2 separate regions of the Homo sapiens genome follow, and region 2 is linked to region 1. Evidence: fine-mapped expression QTL. A gene starts in region 1. The other region holds a variant in brackets. All regions are shown on one strand. Distances are from middle to middle.

Region 1 (5,326 bases):
AGGATCACTTGAGGCCAGGAGTTCGAGCCCAGCCTGGCCAACATGGCAAAAACCCATCTCTACCAAAAATACAAAAAATTAGCCGGACGTGGTGGCCCGCACCTCTAATCCAGCTACTTGGCAGACTGAGACAGGAGAATTGCTAGAGTTCGGGAGGCAAAGGTTACAGTAAGCCAAGACTGTGCCACTGCACTCCAGCCTGGGCCACAGAGTGAGGCTCTGTCTCAAAAAAAAAAAAAAAAAAAAGACAAATAGGATTTAGAGGTCAAAAGAGAGAGACAGTGAGCTATACTATAGTTTTTTGTTGTTGTTGTTGTTGTTTTTTAATTTTTAACTTGAGATGTGGTCTTGCTTTGTTGCCCAGGCTGGCCTTGAACTCCTAGGCTCAAGTGATCCTCCCACCTTGGACTTTCAAAGTGCTGGGGTTACAGATGTGAGCCACCACGACCAGCCGCTATAGTACACTCAAAAAAATAAAAAATTTGGCTGGGCGAGGTGGCTCACGCCTGTAATCCCAGCACTTTGGGAGGCTGAGACAGGCAAATCACCTGAGGTCAGGAGTTCAAGACCAGCCTGGCCAACATGATAAAATCCCGTCTCTACTAAAAATACAAAAACTAGCCTGGCGTGGTGGTGGGCGCCTGTAATTTCAGCTACTCAGGAGGCTGAGGCAGGAGAATTGCTTGAGCCTAGGAAGTGGAGTTGCAGTGAGCCGAGATCGCGACACTGCACTCCAGCCTGGAGGACAGAGTGAGACTCCATCTCAATAAATAAATAAATAAATAAATAAATTTAAAATAAAAGGTTTTATCTCCAAGGCCCGTCAACCAAGCCTAGACATCCTATTCCTCCCCATCACCTAAAATCTTTTAAAATCTATCAAAATGCAAGAAAAGGGAGAGGCTTAAAATGCAATACCTAGCAGAATAAAGAATTGGTATGAAAGAATTTCAAACTACATAATACATTGAGGTATCAGATGTGTCCCAATTTTGAGAATGAGTAAAGGAGCAATGAAGTGTCAGTCAAGAGAAAAGGGAAGCAGAAAAAAGAGACTGATGACCCCGCTTTACAAATTTTCACAGTTTAGACACGTTTATCTTTACCTCCGGATAAATGGCTGTTCTTGGTCTTGTGTGCTAAGGGAATGCAGAAATAGCTCTACACTGAAGCCCCTTAGCAGAAATCATGGCTTCCACTGCCATCACGTGGTTGAAGTGAGGAAGTGCACCAAGCAGGTTCTAGGAACCTAGGAATGCCTACTTGAAGCCCATGGTATAATTAATCCGTGATCAAAGACCTAAAGATTGCGGTAGTAGAGGGCAAACTGGTGACAGTGTTTGCTAAGAGATTCATCTTCTAAGCTGCCAATACACAAAAATCTAAGTTTTTATTATTAATTGGGAGTAAGAAAAAAGATTGCTCCTTTTTTCTTTTTCATGTTAAAGATCGTATATTTAGCAATTCTAGGATGCCCAGTCTGATATTAACGTCTCAAACCCAACTTCTGGTATATTATATGACTACTTACAAATGCCTCGATTTAATGCATATAAATGGGGTAATGTACATTTCTAGCACACATCAACAACCTCATCACGAACATAAGCAATTGTCTCATTAAATGTGCTAAATTCCCTTTGTCATCTTCAATTTAATCAAATAATAATTTTTGACTAGAAGTATAAGGTACAGTCTTAAGCACAATTCATAAAAACCAATTCATCATGTTCTCAAAACTCATCAGCTAAACAAATATATCACTAATATAATCAATATTATTCACAAAAAACACGATGAATAATTAACACATCATTCCTGATAGTTCTTTTCATAGTAAAAATAAGCTTGCCCAGTGGGATATTTGACGTTCTCTGCATTATTTAATTCCCTACCTTCCTTCTACTAGATTGAATATTCAATTACAAACATACCTCTTTAAAATTGTCTACACATACATATCCACTTGATTTTATTTTGTTTTCAAAAGCATCTGAACTCAAGGCTAGGGCACTGTAGACCAAAATGTCAAATAATTGTATTGGGTACATTTTTCCAATTCTCAGTTGTTTTTATATTGTAAACACAGCATAATTGTGTCACTAAGTATATTTTTGATCTTCACTTTCTCCCCTTAAAACCTAGACACCATTATCCTGTCTCTGAACATTCCAAAATATTAATAATCCAACTAGTTTTCCCTAATCCTCTAGGTTCTCTTTCCCATACACTCCCCAGCCAACACTCCCCCACCCCTTTCTTCCGTTTCAGAATGCCTCTTACACACACGCCCCGTGTAGTTTTTACAAAATCACTCCTTGGAATGCGTTTCCTTCTTCTCTCCTTAACTTGGCACCCTTTTTGAAATAATTTCCCACAGCTAGGCGCCAATGTCTTTCATTTACAAGATCAAACTGCGGAAGGGGAAGAGATTGGGAATCGAGTAACCGAAACATTTGGAAATGTCAATGAGACAGTGGCCTCTCCTTTGAAAAGAAAACACAACTCTCAGCACAGAGCTTTCAACAGAGCACAGATACTTTTCTTCGCTGTGCTCCTGTTCCCTCCCTGACCTCAAAGACACCTTCCCTTTTCTCTGATCCCCAGTCCCTCTGCTATGCGTGGGGCCTGCCTTTCCTCCTCCCAAGGAAAAGCAAGCCAGGGAGAAAAAGAAAAGGTAGCAGTCACCTTCCCGCCCGCAAGCGGTCAGGACCCTGTCCCACGACTCACCTGGCAGGTGCGGCCGCCCGGAGAGTTGCACGAAGCGGTTGAGCTGGCCAGTCCCCCGACCCCCGCTGCCCCCACTGCCCCCGCCGGCCCCGCTACCTCCGCCACCAGCGCCGGCGGCGCCTCCTCCCCTCCGGCGGTTCCTGTCCCAGCCCTGGGCGGCCGACATGACCCGCTAACGATTGCCGCAGCCCGGTCCCGTCAGCGCCTGACCCAGCGGAACCAGCGGAGCCTCCTTCCTGGGCTCCTCCAGAGACCCAGGAGACAGGGGAAGGGGGCAGCGCCCGGTCCCACCAGAGACCAATGACTTACCGCCTTGGTGAAAGGCAGCCAATGGTCAGTCGTTTTCTTGGTAGGTGGCGGGAGGCGGAGAGAAACGTGGTAACCATAGCTATGGCTAAAAAAAAAAAAGTAGGGGGAGAGAAAGGCAGAAGCAGCCACTCCTAGCTCTCATCGTCCGCTCTGGGCTGGCCGGCGTCACCCCGACTCCTGCGGGGCCAGGCGGGCCAATCGAAGACCGAGTGTCAGAGGCCGCGCCTGCGGAAAGACTCCCGGGGACGGCCAGTGCCTCAGTCTTGGTTAGGATTCAGGAACTTTTTCCCATAAACATTGCAATCAGACACTGGATATACGCATAATACACATATTTGGGGGCAAGACGGTATTCTGCCAGCTTTTCAGATTGAGATCCCATTCACTGATGGTTGACACACACAAAGGGCTTGCTTGGGGTCCGGGTAGGTGAGGGGACCCAGGGGCGGAGTCAAAGCTAAAATGTAAGAACCAGATATTCCTGGGTTTCATTTGTCTTTCAGTCGGCTTAGCTGCATTTGTCCCTGTATAAGCCACGTCCCAATCAAACAGTTTTAAACCTGGTTAACAAATATGGGAAAATGTTCACTCTCACCTGTAATCTTAGAAATACAAAATAAAACCCCAATGAGAAACCATTTCTGGTTTATTACATCAGTAAAGACTTTTCAAATAACACCTGGCAGTGTGTGGAATGCCAAGAAAAAGGTATTCTCATAGATGGCTGATGGCTCTGTAAATATTTTTGTTCGCTCAAACTCCTTTTGGCTAGTAGAAAATTTTAATCAGCTTGGAAGATATATAATCAAGAGGAAATGTAAAATTAAATAAAAGGCAGCAACGGGTATGGAAGATCAAGATCAAAGAAAATTTTTAATGTGCCGATCAGGAGTTTCTATTGTTCCAAAATTAAACAGAAATTTTGGCTTGAAACTTACTGGGCGCAATGCAGACTGGGAAAACATACTATACACTGATGTTTCTGAATGATAAGGAAAAAGCATATCAAATTCCTCAAGGGAAACAAAACTTTTCAAGGTCCTTAGATGTGACAGATTTTTTTTTCTTTTGCATTAGAAGAACCTTACATGGTTGCAGAGAAAAAAAAGAAACTCTGCTGGAGCTGAGGACAAATACCCTTTGTACCTGGTGTGCAAATTTCTGGTCGCCACTGGCACTGCCTCCTTGTTTTCCTACTTCCAGTCCCTGTAGGCAGAAATGTTTTAGTCACTAGCACCATAGCACGCTGCTTATGAAAATGTTTGAGACTTGAAAAAAAAAAAAGCCTATGGTTCTAAAATATAAAAACCAAAATTAATATATGTTAACTGTTTTTTTTTTTTTTTGAGACGGAGTCTTACTCTGTCGCCGAGACTGGAGTGCAGAGGCATGATCTCGGTTCACTGCAACCTCTGCCTCCCAGGTTCAAACAATTCTCCTGCCTCAGCCTCCCAAGTAGCTGGGATTACAGGCATGTGCCACCACGCTCTGCTAATTATATTTTTAGTAGAGATGGGTTTTCACCATGTTGGTCAGGCTGGTCTCCAACTCCCCATCTCAGGTAATCCACCTGCCTTGGCCTCCCAAAGTGATGGGATTACAGGTGTGAGCTGCTGCGTCTGGCCAGTTTTTTATGTATATAGGCAAAATGCAGTCTTACACATTTTACATGTTTAACCTGTCTAATCCTCACAGAAATCCTATGAAATGCTGTTTTCCCAATTTGCAAAGCAAATTTGTAGAGATAGGGCAGTGTGTGGGGATGAGGGGGTGGTTTTGCCTTGTTGCTCCGGCTAGTCTAGAACTCCTGGCCTCAAGCCATCCTCCTGCCTTGGCCTTCTAAAGCATTGGGTTATAGGCATGAGCACCACGCCCAGCCAAAGTAGATTCTTAAGTAACACTTTTTAATTAATCAACTGGGAGAGATGAAATAAGAAAATAACATATAAAGTTTTGGTTGGGCGCGATGGCTCATGTCTGTAATCCTAACACTTTCTGTAATCCCAACCCTTTGGGAGGCCGAGGTGGGTGGATCACCTGAGGTCAGGGGTTCAAGACCGCCTGGCCAACATGGTGAAACCCGGTCTCTACGAAAAATTCAAAAAAATTAGCCAGGCGTGGTGGTGGGTGCCTGTAATCCCAGCTACTCGGGAGGCTGAGGCACGAGAATTGCTTGAACCCGGGAGGCAGAGGTTGCAGTAAGCCGAGATCGTGCCATTTTCACTCCAGCCTGGGCGACAAAGCAAGACTCCGTCTCAAAAATACATACATACATACATACATACAT
Region 2 (5,379 bases), 64 kb before region 1:
GCACTGCACACCTATGGTACTCACCATTATGCTGCAGCCTTTTTTGGCCAAACATCCTAAATAATGTTAGATCTTGGGGATTATCTAGCCAACCTCCTCCTATTTGACAGATAAGTAAACCAAGACCCAAAGAAAAGCAAGTTGCATACAGAACAGGGCTATTATGGACTGAGCCAAGAGCAGAGCCCTTGTCTCCTAACCCCCAGGTCATCTCTTCCTAGAATTGCACTAAGAGGTAGCCACTAGCCATGTGTGGTTATTTCCCTATAAATACATGAAAATTAAATCAAATTAAAAATTCAGTTTCTCAGCCATACTAGCCACATTTGAAGTACTCAAAAGCCCCATGTGGCTTGTGGCTACCACCATATTGGGTGGTGCAGATACAGAACATTTCCACCATTGCAGAAAGCTTTATTGCTCTAGCACTGGGCTAGAACCTGGCCTTTCATTTGAAGGCAGTAGGGAAACTGGATGGTTTTACCAATGTTTTCTTCCCTCAAGCAATTACTGCAGAAGATTAACTACAAGAGAATGTGGTTGTTGTTAAAGTAGCTTAACAACATCATTTTAACAAACTAGAATTATATACACATAAACTGGAAGAACAAAACCACGCAAACCAACTAGGCCACTGAAACTCCTCCCACTAGGCCAAGATGGGTCTTAGATGCCTTATCTAAGAACCAAATCAGATGCACATAAGAGTCCATTTCAAAGCTCTGGCTGGTCTGAAGACTGAAAGGTATAGGGTGCATTTCTTATATCTGGTAGCTTGGAGAGGAGTATAGTTAGGAGAAATAAACCCAAGGAAAGAAGACTGCTCTGCATAATAAAGTATTAACTGTAAGGTGGATGAATGGGTAGAAATTGTTTCTCTTCTTCCTTGTAGATGTATATTGTAATATCTAAGATTATTTGTCCATGGAAGGTGTGTTTGATCCAATAGTTAACCAATGGAAACACTGAAAAATACAAGGCATCTGTTCAGTTCTAGAAGGGAGACCTTAAAAGTGACCAGACTTGGGAGTATCCTTCCCTACCTACTCTGGACTACACAGACATGGAGAAAAGCACTGCATGGAGAAGGATTAGAGGATTAGAGATCACAGCATCATAAAACAGAGGTTTGTTTTGGTGAGGGAAGCATCTGGAAGACCAAGGGCAGAGCTAGGAAGTGTAGTTTCACCCCCAGAGGACCCCTGCACAGGGCTCAGCAGCTCCTGGGGCTCTTCCCTCAGATCATAAAGACAGTCAGATGACTATATATACGGGTTCACATTTTCCCTTTGAATTCTCTGTAGCTCTTCCAACCCTTCAGAAAAGTCTTGATATACCTATACAAACTTGTCTAGCAGTGGTTTGGGGAACATGGGGTGGGGCAGTGAGAGGGAGTGTGGGCTGCCCGACAGTTGCTCCCTTGCTGATGTCTTTGTGGAGGGAGCAGTGTGCTGGTGAGGGAACTCTTGTGTGTCCAGGAGTTCCAGATAATGAGCAGATAAAGAACCCACAGTGGAGTGGGGGTGGAAGGCAGATGACTCACAGATATTACAGAGAAAAGCTGAGCCTGGTGGAGGTGGGTAGGACTGACGCTTCTGTCATATAGGTGCGCTCACGTACACACAAATTACCATTAGACAATCAAGGTGAACTTGAACCAAATTGATTTGGATAAGATTTATTGATCAGATTGTTTTAGAAAACCAACAGCAAAACACTGACAAGGTACATAAATACAGATTGGACATTTTAGGGTAAATTCACTGTATTTCCTACTTGCTTGTAGGAAACCGAGTAAAGTGGAAAAGCTGTCCTGATCATATGGCATGCACACCAGACTGCAAAAGGACGTCCACACTATTTAACAGGACTGTGGCAAAATAGCTTTAAAGTAAGGCGAGCATTGTGTATGGCCCAAGCATACCCTGTAGGAAGAGCAAAGCTAGGCTCACCTCTCAGAGACTGTGTCTCAGAAAGAGGCTTCCTTTCTTGCCTAGGTTCTTCCATGAAATTCGTCATTGGCAGGTGCTTTTCCAGGGAGATGCCTGTGCTCTCCCTGTGCAGACTCTGTGCACAAGGAAGTGGCTTTAGAGAGTGTGTTTTCTGATGCCTCCTTTATATTCTAAATGTATAACTAGTAAAACAACAATTACTACCGCTTGGTGAAATTGTTTTTTGTTTTTT[T/GTTTTTTT]CTGAAAACTGCCTCTGACTCCACCCTGTACACTGACTAAGCAGGGCCCTTAAAAAACTTATAAAAAGTTGTTTTTTTTTTTTTTTTTTTTTCAAATTAAAAACATGAAAATTACACCAAAAAGATGGAACTACTTTTGTAGCACAACTCAGAACTTCTGTTCGTAACACCGGACTAGAGAAGAGGTCGCTTTTGGCTGAATCTAATGACCTTAGAAGGGAAAGGCCATTGCTGGGCAGGATCTGGTGGCAACGCACACGGAAGTCCTAGAACTCTATGAAGCCTACCTCAGGCCCTGCGGGTGCGTCTGGAGTTCCAAGGCATTTGGGGAACCAAAGCAATTTCAGCTAACAGTGACCAGTTTTTAGAATGGAGCTTATGATCAGAGGACCATAAACCCTCATCCACCCTAGAGCTCAATGCCAGAAAAATAAAAAATAATACAAAAAATAAAGGAAAATAGCTTTTTGTGCTATATCAGAATGCTGGCAGGTAGACAATTCAGTAACCTGTGCCACTTTCTAAACATCTGTAAGACCACAAAAAAAAAATGGGTTTTACAGAATACGAAGACCAACACAGTCTTAGAGGATCATTCAACCTTTCCTACATGCCAAGCTGTGTGATTGGAAAATAGAAGAGCCATAGCTCTTGCAAGATTAGAGGAAAAGCAAGTATTTGTCAAGAGCCAAAGAAATGTGTTCAAATAATGGAGTTTCCTCTGTGTCGCACACAGCTTTTCCTTCCCGTAGGTACTAAGAGTTCTTTGGTGGTTAGAGAGATGGCCTGGAGCTCAGGGCAGGAGATGACGCTGAAGAGCTACATCTACTCAGGATTACCACCTGTGGTTCCTAATTTCAGCATTCAACTCTAATTGTTCAGCCTGACTAATTACAGGCAATCAGCTGCTTATATGGTCACTGGTTGTCAGCTCCTACTGATTATTCCTTTTCCTTTTCTACCTACTCATTAACCCCATTCCATGGAAAAACAGGTGCTTACAGGAAAGGATAGGGAGGAAAAAGAAATGTAAATGAATCTATTGTTTGGTAGGAAAGTTGATTCACTGATTATCTATGGATTTCAATGATCTGTGCTTTACTCTTGCTACTGTGGATAACCAAAGGTCACTGTTAACGTATCTTTTGCTTAAAAATGTTAATATGCTTATTATGCTTTAAAATCTAGCTATTTAAGGGCATGAATGGTTTAAAGCAAATTTTTACATCATGTCATTATGGCCCTGAAAAAAGGAGATTCTGCCAATGGAAAGGGTTTTGTTTAGCCCCAGTTAAGATTTCAACCTATTCTGTGTCAGTTTATAGTTTTTCCAGGATGTGGAAAATATTAAATGAAGAAAGCATCATTTTCTTCATTTAATAAAGTATTACATTCCCAGATAAATTAGTATATACATAGGAGAATGGTTAGTGTTAAATACTAGGTTTTAATTCTCCGTTTAGGAAACTCCTTACAGATGGACTTCCTTGTTCTCCGGCAACAAAATGTAAGACATGCAAACATGAGAGAGTACAAAGATGACAGGGAGAAAAAAAATCTCAACTCTAACAAACCTAAGGAACAATGAGTCTCTAAGAGTTGGAGTAAGAAAACATGGACTTGAAAATCCAGCTTTATCATGACATGAGTTGGCTTAAGCCAGCTGATCACATCTAAAATTCTTGGCATAATTTGAACCTAAAGTAATGAGCTCACTTCCCCAAGATGCAAAAAAGTAGTCTACCTGCTTTATAGTTACACCCTATATATAATCTGTATATATCCATATGTTTCTATATATTGCACTTAAATTTACAGGACTGTAGTAAGACGGCTGGGAGTACCTCAAAGAGGCAGAGAAGCAGCAGGCATAAACTTTCCTAAATCAAGTAAACAGTGTCAGGAATTCCGAGTGCTGGTTATAGGTATACCGAAACGCCTGATGACCCCTATCTAATTTCTAGTTATCTACACTTAGTCATTTACACACAGTCTCATTTGGCATCCAGAACATGTACACATGTGTGGTTCTATAGCACTCAGTGCTGGTCATACCATGTCATTTTTACTAGTGTTATATTAAAAGAAGACACTTTAGACCAAGGATATATACTTTTATGAAAATAAAACACACAGGTCTTCGATGTCAGGCCTCCAAGGTCTACCTCAAAGAAGACTGCCCTCAGAAGGCTTAACAAAGGATGCCAGCAAGTATGGATGGAACCAGACCACATCTCTCTTCAGCTCTCTGGTGTAGCAGGGCTAGAGACTCACTTCTATCCTAAGGACCATGAAAGTCTAAGCACAGAGGCTGAGCATTCAGTCTTTGGTCCCTGTATAAATCCAGGTCAAAAATCCTCTTGCCACCCTGGACAGCCTGGCTTGTTCAATTTAGAATATATTTCCACCAAATATCCAGAGGCCAGGCTGAAGTCATGCAGCAAAGCTCTGTTTTGGACTAATGGAGCTGCTCAGACTGACTTGCTCTGGGAGAGAACGGAGGAGCAAGCCTGGCAGTGGTGGCAGGAGGTTAAGTGCTACACAGACTGGTAATGGCAAGATGTGGGAGGATGGGCCCCTAGAGGAGCTGCTCCTTTTTCTGCCTCTCTCCCACATTCCTCACTCCCCAGAAAGGACCCACGTTCACAGGTGCGTGGTTATTATAAGACTTCCCAGAATACAGGCTCCATGAACTCAACCCATCACAGAGGGGATGGTATGATAAGGCCTAGAAATCAGGAGCATGTCTGGAGGCTACGGTTTTCTCTTTCCCAGAACTGAACACCAGATGGTAGCTTTTTAACCGTAGCTCAAAGGTCATTTTAAATCCACACATAAGCTAAAGAGATCCCTTCTGAGATGAAGGACAAAGAATAACTTTAAAAGCTAGGTGAAAAAAGAGGCACTTAAAGGAAAGATGTGTTCCAACTCTCCCATGCGAGTCTCCTGCTGTGAGTTGGCCCCGGGAGGACCAGCGCTGCCCCTTGCACGCCTTCAGCACCTTGAGTACACCTGCGGCTTACACATGCGCATGGTGAGCCTCTTGCTCAGCTCCCCTAGCAGCCAGATGGCAAAGCGAGTGAAAATTTATGTCATTCTTTTTAGAATTAAAAAAAAAACAAATCAAACAAACCAGAACTAAAATTTCACACACACAAAATGAATGCTACTCAGTTTCATTCCTTCCTCATGCTA

Which allele goes with the higher level. Alleles are on the strand shown, and positions count from the first base shown. SD is a standard deviation of normalised expression in the study named.
For the expression in prefrontal cortex of the gene that starts at base 3,006 in region 1, allele GTTTTTTT in region 2 goes with a lower level than allele T (large effect, 0.80 SD a copy in ROSMAP).

The links.
Region 2: its variant is fine-mapped to the expression of KLHDC10 in prefrontal cortex (ROSMAP, PIP 0.90).

The regions. Positions count from the first base shown.
Region 1 is chr7:130,068,214-130,073,539 of GRCh38, reverse strand. KLHDC10 (kelch domain containing 10) reads right to left here and starts at 3,006. Exons shown (of 10, transcript NM_014997.4): 1 at 2,731-3,006. The coding sequence starts at 2,896. RefSeq lists a silencer at 2,802-2,971 and enhancers at 3,072-3,261, 3,292-3,491.
Region 2 is chr7:130,131,989-130,137,367 of GRCh38, reverse strand. It overlaps KLHDC10 (kelch domain containing 10), which reads right to left. Exons shown (of 10, transcript NM_014997.4): 10 at 1,663-5,379. Among named protein-coding and RNA genes, the nearest start is that of LINC03008, 7.1 kb to the left of the region's middle. The variant T/GTTTTTTT (reference allele first, on the strand shown) is at 2,185.